2 linked regions of the Homo sapiens genome follow. The protein of the gene in region 2 purifies or fractionates together with the protein of the main gene of each other region. This does not show direct contact. Each region holds a gene or a part of one and is shown on either strand. Other genes may lie near its edges.

Region 1 (4,716 bases), on a different chromosome or scaffold from region 2:
GGCGGGTGGATCATCTGAGGTCAGGAGTTCGAGAGCAGCCTGGCCAACATGGGGAAACCCCGTCTCTACTAAAAACAACAAAAATTAGCTGGGTGTGATGGCGGGCGCCTGTAATCCCAGTGACTCGGGAGGCCGAGGCAAGAGAATCGCTTGAACCCAGGAGGTGGAGGTTGCAGTGAGCCTAGATAGCGCCATTGCACTCCAGCCTGGGCAACAAGAGCGAAACTCTGTCTCAAAAAAAAAAAAAAGGCTAGTTTTAATAACTCCAGAGCTCTTCCTTAATAATAATAATATTGTACTCCCCTAAAGCACGTGAATTACAAAATCCTCATCTCATTTTTTCCCCTCATAGACCCCAGCAAATTATTTATTTCCCATTTTACATAAAGGAAATGGACCTTCAGTGAGGGTCAGTCATTTGTTGCCAGTTTCAGCTCAGTGGAGAAGTGGGACTCTGATGGGGCCCGAGGTCCTCCCAATCCAAGCTCCACATTTTTACCACTGAAACTGCTTTTCCATGAGGTTTCACACCTGCAATCTAGCATGGCCTAGGGGCTTTGGTTTTCCTCCTCAGAAGTTCCAGCTCAAATAGTTTTACTAATCAATTGAAAACTGGCAAGTGGTTACTTAACTCTCACTGAAGCAGCTGCGGGGAGAGAGGTCTGGCCATGCCTGTGGGGCCTGGAATCAGAGGCTCTTCCTTCTGAGTTCTACAGGGACTGCCTCCAACCAGAATGCAGGAATCCTGCAGAGGCCCTGACCTCTGGGTGGATACTATCACACCATTCAAAACACACACACACACATACACACACCACACACCACACACACACCACACACCACACATATACACCACACACTACACACACACCACACGCTACACACACACCACACATACCATGCACATACACACACCACACATACACACCACACACTACACACACACCACACGCTACACACACACCACACATACCATGCACATACACACACCACACACACCACACACATATATACCACACACATACACACACCACACACATACACACACCACACACACACCACACACATATACACACCACACACACACACCACACACACATCACACACACATCACACACACCACACATACACACACCATACACACACACCATACACACACACCACACACATACACACACCACACACTACACACACCATATACACACACCACACACCATACACACACACCACACACCATACACCACACACCACACATACACACACACACCACACACTACACAGACACACCACACATACACACACACCACACATACACCACACACACACACCACACAGACACACCACGCAGACACCACACACCACACACAATCTCAAGGGGATTTCAAATCCCTCAGACTGAATGTCTGTGGTAAGAGGTGGGTTCTAGGGGCAAGCTCTTGCGGGGAAGGGCCATAGCCGGCAGGACCCCGTGGCTTAAGGCTACTGACCAGATGGAGTTCTTTCTGAAACTCCTCTTTGTGATTTTTCTTTTTGAGTTCCAGGCAGTTGTTCTTCAGACCCCTATACTTCTCCTTGCCATCCCCCTTGTCTGTTTTCACGATGTCCTTAGTTCCGCTGAGCTCCACGGAGTAAATTTCTGGGGTTTTCTGAAAGAGAAGCCCAGGTGCAATATTGGCCCCAAATGGGGTTTCCGAAGAGGTGCTGAGCGCCCCTCTGCGGGGTCAGGACCTGCAGGAGTCAGGAGCCCCTTCTCCCTTTCCTTCCCTCCTCTGGGGAGGCCGGAGGGAGTCGGACAGTGGAGTCTCTCCCCCACCTCCCGCCGACCTTGGCTTCCTCTCCGTCCGTGTAGAGGGGAGGCGGGGTGGGCACAGGCCAGCCAGCAGCTCCTCAGGGTGACCCTTCTCTGGGTGGAGCAGGTGGGAAGTTACCCCCCCAACTCCTGACTGATGCCTCCAAGGAGCTGTGAGGTTTCCTTAGAACCTCGAGGTTCCTTAGGCACCTCGAGGTTTCCTCTGAGGTGTCCTTCCCAGGGGACACAACAGCTGTGCGTCCTGTTTCTTGGGGAGGAGGCACCCACTAAGCTTACGACCCTCAGTCCTGATCAGGGGGCCCTAACCGGAAGTCTTTTCAGACCGCAACGAATCCATGTCACCCCATCCTCCGAGTCGGAGCCCGCAGGTGCCATGGAGCTGGCCTAGGACCCCTTGGCCCCTTCTCGCTCCTCTGGACTGGCTTCTTTCCCCAGCCAGCCCCGGCGGCCGCACGGAGCCGTGGCGGGGAGTCAGAGAAGCGGTGCCCAGGCCGGGGGGCGCTCAGAGGAAAGGCGGCCTCCCCTTGCCCCGGGACGGGGCGTTTCTCCTCTTCGCCTTTTCCTCGCTTCCCGTCAGCCTGCTCCGGTCCCCGGGGCCTTGGCCCAGCGTCTCGCATCCTCGGCCGGCGCGGGGGCTGCACGCACCTGGTGCATGCTGGGCTGGTGGCGCCGCGGGCTGCGGGCGTGGAGCGCGGATCCGGGACCGCAGCGGCGGAGCGCACGGTGGGGGGCCTCGTGTGGCTGTGGCAGTGGCAGTGGCTGAGGTGTTGGCGGTGGAGATACCGGCGGCGGCGCGGGCCCTGCACGCACCTCCGCGGCCGATCGCCAGCCGCTGCACCGGGGAGGTGGCACCAGCCTTAAATGCCGCCCGCCCCGCCCACGTCCCCGCCAGGGCGCAGGCCAGCGGACGCCTCGGAGGGTAGGAAACCCGCCGGCGCGCGCGCAGGGAGGGGGACCGACAGCTAGGGGTCGGGAGAGTCCAGGATTGAGGACCCCCTGGGAATCCCCTTCCCTTTAGTAGCCGAACGCCAGGGGGCGGGGTCTCTAGGGGGCGGGTCCGGCATCCAGGTGAGTACAGCCCTGGTTCCGCTGGGCGCCCAGAGCCGGACCAGCTGCTCCGGCGAGCTCCCGGCACGCCCACGTCCTGTCCAGGCTTCCCTGAAAACCCACACATGCCTTTTTTTAAAAATGTAATTTGCCTACCAATAAATCAATTTATAAAAATGTGTATGCAGAGAAGGGGAAATTGCAGTTTCTAACAGCAACTACTGTTGGAGATGTCCCGGCTAGAAAAGGCCAATGTGTTTTTGAGAATGGATTTAGATAGGTAAATTCAAGCTTCCGAGAGAATTTGGGAATAACTGAGAGACTCTGAAGAGTAGCTGAATTAATTTGCCGGATCCAGATAAGAATTTGGAATTCTGAAACAATTTGGAGAGGGAATGGGGAGGAGAGATGAGAGGATTAGGGTCGGTGAGACCACAGGAACCTGGGGCCCCAGGCTGCGGGTGCGCAGGAGCGGAGGCTGTTGGCTGGACTGGGCTGGAGAGGTCTGTCTCCACCTATTTATGTCACTCCCAGCTGAGACTCTATACATGAAGGAGAAAAGAATTTCTGACCCTGAAAGTTGATGTGCATACTAAAGCAGTGGTTGTTTTATACTGCTAAGTTTGGGTTGGTTTGTTATGCAGCAATAGATAACTGGGACATGCTCCATGCTCTTAGTGCCCAGCATGAGTTTTTGCACAGGATAGAAAAGGTATTTTCCCCCTGACACTTGAAACATAATTACTCCAGATGAGAAAGATAGCCTGAAAACAATATATCAGAGAGATATTTAGCAGTTAACAGTGGAGGAAATCAAACACGTTCTTTTAAAAGAATGAATCGTGAAGTCTTAAAGTCAGTGAAGAATATTAATTAATGGAGAGGAACATAAAAAATAAAACCCACGAATAGAGTTTAGTAATCAGCACCTATTTAGAAGAACAATAAGAAATTGACATGATTGAAATATATGAAAGGGAGTAGAGATAAGTTTCAAAAGAGGGGGCACTTTATTGGGCCCTTGATGCTCTGCTAATAAGTTTCCATTTAGATAAGGACTAATAGGAGGGTGCTAAGTTTTATTCTTTTTGAAAGTTATATATCAAATATGGTAAGAAAGATTGTCATTTTGACCATATTTAAAATGACTAAGAGTGAGGAGTCCAGAGAAGCAGCAAAAGTAACAATCCCATCATGCAGTGACTAGAACATCTGGCAGAAAACATGAAGAGCATTGGGTACATTTAGAAAAGGTAGAAGAAAAACAATAAGCTTGTGCCCGGCCGGGCGCGGTGGCTCACGCCTGTAATCCCAACGCTTTGGGAGGCCGAGGCGGGCGGATCACGAAGTCAGGAGATCGAGACCATCCTGGCTAACACGGTGAAACCCCATCTCTACTAAAAATACAAAACAATTAGCCGGGCATGGTGGTGGGCGCCTGTAGTCCCAGCTGCTCGGGAGGCTGAGGCAGGAGAATGGCATGAACCCGGGAGACGGTGGAGCTTTCAGTGAGTGGAGATCGCGCCACTGCACTCCAGCCTGGGCGACAGAGCGAGACTCTGTCACAATAAAAAAATTAAAAAAAAAATAAGAAAAAAAAGCTTGTGCCCAATTCTAATTAGGAATTAATTATAACTTCCTGTTCCTTTCAGATGCTAAATTTCCATAATAATTTCAGAGCATGACTATAGTTGGTGGTGAGGGACAATTGGGAAAAGAAGCTTATTTTGAGGGAATTTGAAGTGTTAGCAGTTAGAGACGTGGTTTTGTAAAGTAGCAGTAGAGACAAAGATACTTTCTCATGGCATATTTGTGATCTTAGATTTTCCACACCTCTCTGTTCATCATGGCTTTCAAAT
Region 2 (4,478 bases):
AAGGTCAACTGTTAAGGTTTATGGTCTTAACACTTCCGAAAGTGAGCACTGGGGTATCAAAGAACCCAAATCGCCCAGGAAGTAGCTGACAAGAGAGTACAATCATTTCCCTTCTGGTCCTCTTAAGCCCTATACAGGAAGAACACTGCTCAAAGGAATCACCTGTGGCCATGTGGAGTCCTTGCCAAAGGACTTTCTCACATGATTCATTATCAGTACATGAATGGAAATAGCTTAGTAATTCTGATGTTATTTATGTTTAAAACCATATAAATACAAACGCTCTTAATCTGTATATTGGAGGGGATGTGGTAACACTGGGATTTCATTATTTTCTGCTTCCTCTACTTCTTTCACAAGATAATGGTGTGTGTGGGTTTTTGCGCTCTCCCCACTGCTGACACATTAAAGAAAACTGCTGACAGACCCACTGCTGTAGATGTAAGGCATTTACCTGGTGCCGACTTTCTGGGATGGCATCAGTGAGTTATTCAGATAAAAACCCAGCCATTTTAGATCAATTTGTCAAATATCAAACCTAAAAAGAAAAAAATGATTAACGCATTCCACTGAATATAGTCAGGTTTTTATTTTTTAATTTACAGAGTAAGCTTCCACACTGCATCTTAAGAGTGTTTTTGAAGGGAGTGAAACCATCTGGTTCACATCAAGAACATATTTTTCCTTATATAGAGCTAGACTGCATTAAGTGGTGGGCACAGGATCTCATCATCTTCCTGCCTGTGGTCAACATCTTCCCCAATGCCCTTGTAGATATACATTAGGCAAAGAGAAAAAGAACGTTTTAGGGTAAAATAGTGCAGTCTCATTCCTAGCCATTTCTTTCTATAGACATGTAAGAAATGTCTATAAATGTAAGAATATGAAAATAGATTGGATTTTTACTTGTGAATCTACAGCTAAACTTAAATGATTCTATTACTTAGTATAAAGCTTATGCACATTTTATTGTACCATAATTTAAAAAATACCTTTTTAAAAGATTACCTTTTCTGTTTTTCTTTTTCCCAGAAGTAATGCTAACGCGTCGTATAAATGTCAAGTTACAGAAGGATGTAAAATAAAAGTAAACATATCCTTACCCTCTATTACTTTTCTCTGCATTTACTTCCCAGAGGTACTACTAATAGTTACCTATGTCTCCTTCTAGGACTTGTATACACATGCATATAAATATGTATATTCATAAAAAATGCATACACATGCATATAAATATGTATATCTATAGTTTTTTCTTTTTGTACATCATAGTATTTTCTTCTTTGTTTCATTTATTTTACTTATGATGGCTAGCAGATTTCCTACATCAGCATATATAAATCTACCTCATTCATTTTGATGGCTGTACAATATTTCATTCATTGTACTCACACATAGTTTATTTAACCAGTCTGCTATTAATGAGCCTTAATCTTTTTTTTCAGTTTTCCTTTTGGCTGCTACAAAAATGTCCCAATAATAATATTTACATATATGCACTTTTGTACTTATATGAATGTATCTATATAATAAATTCTAACAGACTGTTGAACCAAATTGTTTGTATATGCTAAGTTTTTGATAGATATTCATAAAATGTCCTCCGTTAAGGTTATACCAATTTATAATACCAAGAATCTGGGTTTTATCAAATCATTTTTTCTTTATCTGATAAGTAAAAGGTATATCTTTGTTTTGACTTGCATTTCGTTAATTATGAATGAGGTTGAACTTCTTTTCATTTTCTTATTGTTTCCATAGTAATTCTTCTACGAGTTTTCTCAGCCATGGCTTTTGCTCATGTTTCAATTAGGTTGTTTATTGTTTCTCACATTAAAGAGCTCATGTTATGTTAAGGAAACTTAAATTTTACATGTAATGGCTGGCAAATAGCTTTCCCAGGTTTCTTGTTTAGATGATAACTTTGTTTATGGTACTTTTTACTGTATAAGCATTTATTTTTATGTAGTCAAATTCATCAGTATTTTTAATTATATATAGGAGGATTTTTTAAATAAGAAATTTATTTAAAGTTGAAGAGTTATTCAAGAAGATTGTATATAGGTTAATTTTTAAACCAACTTTAGCATACCAAGTTTAGCATTTAGGCATACCAACTTTAGCACTGTTATACAGAATAATGTTAGCATTGGAAGGATCTATTAACAAAAGAAAGTTCCCATAAAATGATTTCTTCTATAAAATATCATGACCGTGTGAATTCTGTGGACTCTTTGTGAGACACTAGTGTACCACAGGAAAAAAAAATGACAGAAAGGGTCAGATTTATAGTACCATTCTCCAGAGAGTTAATAGTAGTTGTCTAGTACCTAAAATCTAGAGTGAATTATAAATAAAGTAATAGAAATTCCAAGACAAATAGAAAGTAAAAAATATAAAATCAATAGAGATCCATTATAGAAAATTTTGTAGGTACATACAAAAGAAAGAAAGAAAAAAAATCATCCTCAAAAGCTCTTAAGATTTGTTGTATATTGTTCCTAATTTTTCTTATTGGCTCCACAGATATGCATGCATTTAAAAAACATGTAAGTGATTTTACTAACAAATCAATCCTAACATAATTAAATGAATTTCATTAAGATGCCAATAACCCAAGACCTTAATGGCACCTTGACAAGCATCTACCAGGTATACACATACATGGGATCACACTTACGATTCATATGTTATACAGTGATTTTTTCACTTACTACTATCTTTACTTGCCACTAAATATTTTAAAATATATAAATTATATATTACATTTTATATTTATACAAAATATATAACAACTGTAATGTTCTATCATATGGCTTAAGTTAATGGAAATTAAAAGGAATAGGAATAACTGTGTGTTCTCTCAAAAATCCACTCTGGTAACTCAGTAGATAATAGACCAGGACATACTCAAGAAATCATTACCCAAGAATCACATCTTTTTCATTCATGATAAAGTGGCAGCAATTAACTGTGTAACTGAGGGCTGGGAGACATCATGATAAAATGTGTTTTATATGAAGTGACATCATTTGAATGGGAGAGTTAGATTATTAAAGCTGGGTTAATGGAAAATTCTCATTCTAAGGGCAGGAGCATTTGAATTGATGGCAAGAAGAATTTGAGTCAAAAAGTAAAGTATATGTGTTGATGAAATTGTAAGTGTGAAGGAAAATATATGTGCTGATAAAGTTGTTAAGTATATGAAATTTACTAGAAAAAAATGCTATGCTACGAGAATTTTTCCAACTGTTAAAAAGAAAAAAATGCTATGCTATGAGATTTTTTCCAACTGTTAAAAAGAAAACCTTGTGCAGATTGCATTCAGCCACAGCCACAAATATTGGGGCTTAGTGAAACCAGGGGACTCTTAGGGGCTATAGAGGGTGATCACTGGTACTTTATTTTTTATTAGTACTAAGAAACTCTGCCTGCTATGTGTAAGATATCTTTTGGGTATTTCTCCTTCTTTCAAACTTCCACTACTTGTCATGATGGCAGCCCTGGATTGATTTTGCCCTAACCCATAACTTACAAATTAGATGTTGTAATGTCAGTGCTACCTGAATATCTACAGTTCTAGATTCAAGGAGCTGGTGAAATTTTATCTCCTACAAATTTTCTCAATACCATTGAAAAAGTGGCTGCTCAGTCCTGTTGGCACAGGTTTCCCCTCAAACATGATCCCAGGGAACCCATACACACCTGTCTTTTGACCAACATCAATAAGCCCCTGTCAAAACAGGAGATATTCGGACAGATCCAACTGATGGCTGTCAGAGAATCTACCTGCACTGGGTGAAACAGCTCAGGGACTGAATCATTTGGGGAGTCACTGGCTTGAGCATTGACTGGTTAGTAACTATATTTTACTACATTTTTGTAAACCATGCTTGTAGTAAATAAGCATTTATATTAAAAGCTGAAAAAGTAATATGTAATTTGAGTTGGAATGCTGAACAGTCTATGTGTATGTAGAAAACAGAAAATAACTTGTCCAATCCAAGGGAGAATTTACTTTATAGCATGAGAGCACCAAAAAGTAAACAGAAAATTTTGGATTTTTATGGGAAAAAATAGAGATATCAAAAGTTGTTATTATTATTATTATTATTCGAGACAGGGTCTTTCTCTGTTGCTCAGGCTGGAGTGCAGTGGTGTGATCATGGCTCACTGCAGCCTTCACCTCCCAGACTCAAGCAATCCTCCCAACTCAGTCTCCTGAGTAGTTGGGACTACAGGTCCCAACTACTACATGGTGTGCGCCACCATGCTCTGGCAATTTTTTATTTTTTGTAGAGATGGGGGTCTCAGTTTGTTGCCTCAGCTGGTCTCAAACTCCTGGCCTCAAGTGATCCTCCCAAAGTGCTGGGATTACAGGTCTGAGCCACCATACCTGGGCTCCAAAGTTAATTTTTAAAAGTATGTCATCTACTATTTTTTTAAAAAGCTTTATTGAAGTATAATTGATATACAAA

The links. The genes of interacting proteins can lie anywhere in the genome.
Region 1: the proteins of AGTR1 (region 2) and ATP12A purify together in Homo sapiens (affinity purification with mass spectrometry; 3 studies listed by BioGRID and IntAct, with this or other methods). This does not show direct contact.

What each region holds. Positions count from the first base shown.
Region 1 is NC_000013.11:24,678,492-24,683,207, reverse strand, and holds the start of ATP12A (potassium-transporting ATPase alpha chain 2), read right to left. Parts: upstream 2,801-4,716; 5' UTR 2,465-2,800; coding exon 2,456-2,464; intron 1,647-2,455; coding exon 1,488-1,646; intron 1-1,487. UniProt on the Homo sapiens protein: The catalytic subunit of a H(+)/K(+) ATPase and/or Na(+)/K(+) ATPase pump which transports K(+) ions in exchange for Na(+) and/or H(+) ions across the apical membrane of epithelial cells.
Region 2 is NC_000003.12:148,704,004-148,708,481, reverse strand, and holds part of AGTR1 (type-1 angiotensin II receptor), read right to left. Parts: intron 539-4,478; 5' UTR 455-538; intron 1-454. UniProt on the Homo sapiens protein: Receptor for angiotensin II, a vasoconstricting peptide, which acts as a key regulator of blood pressure and sodium retention by the kidney.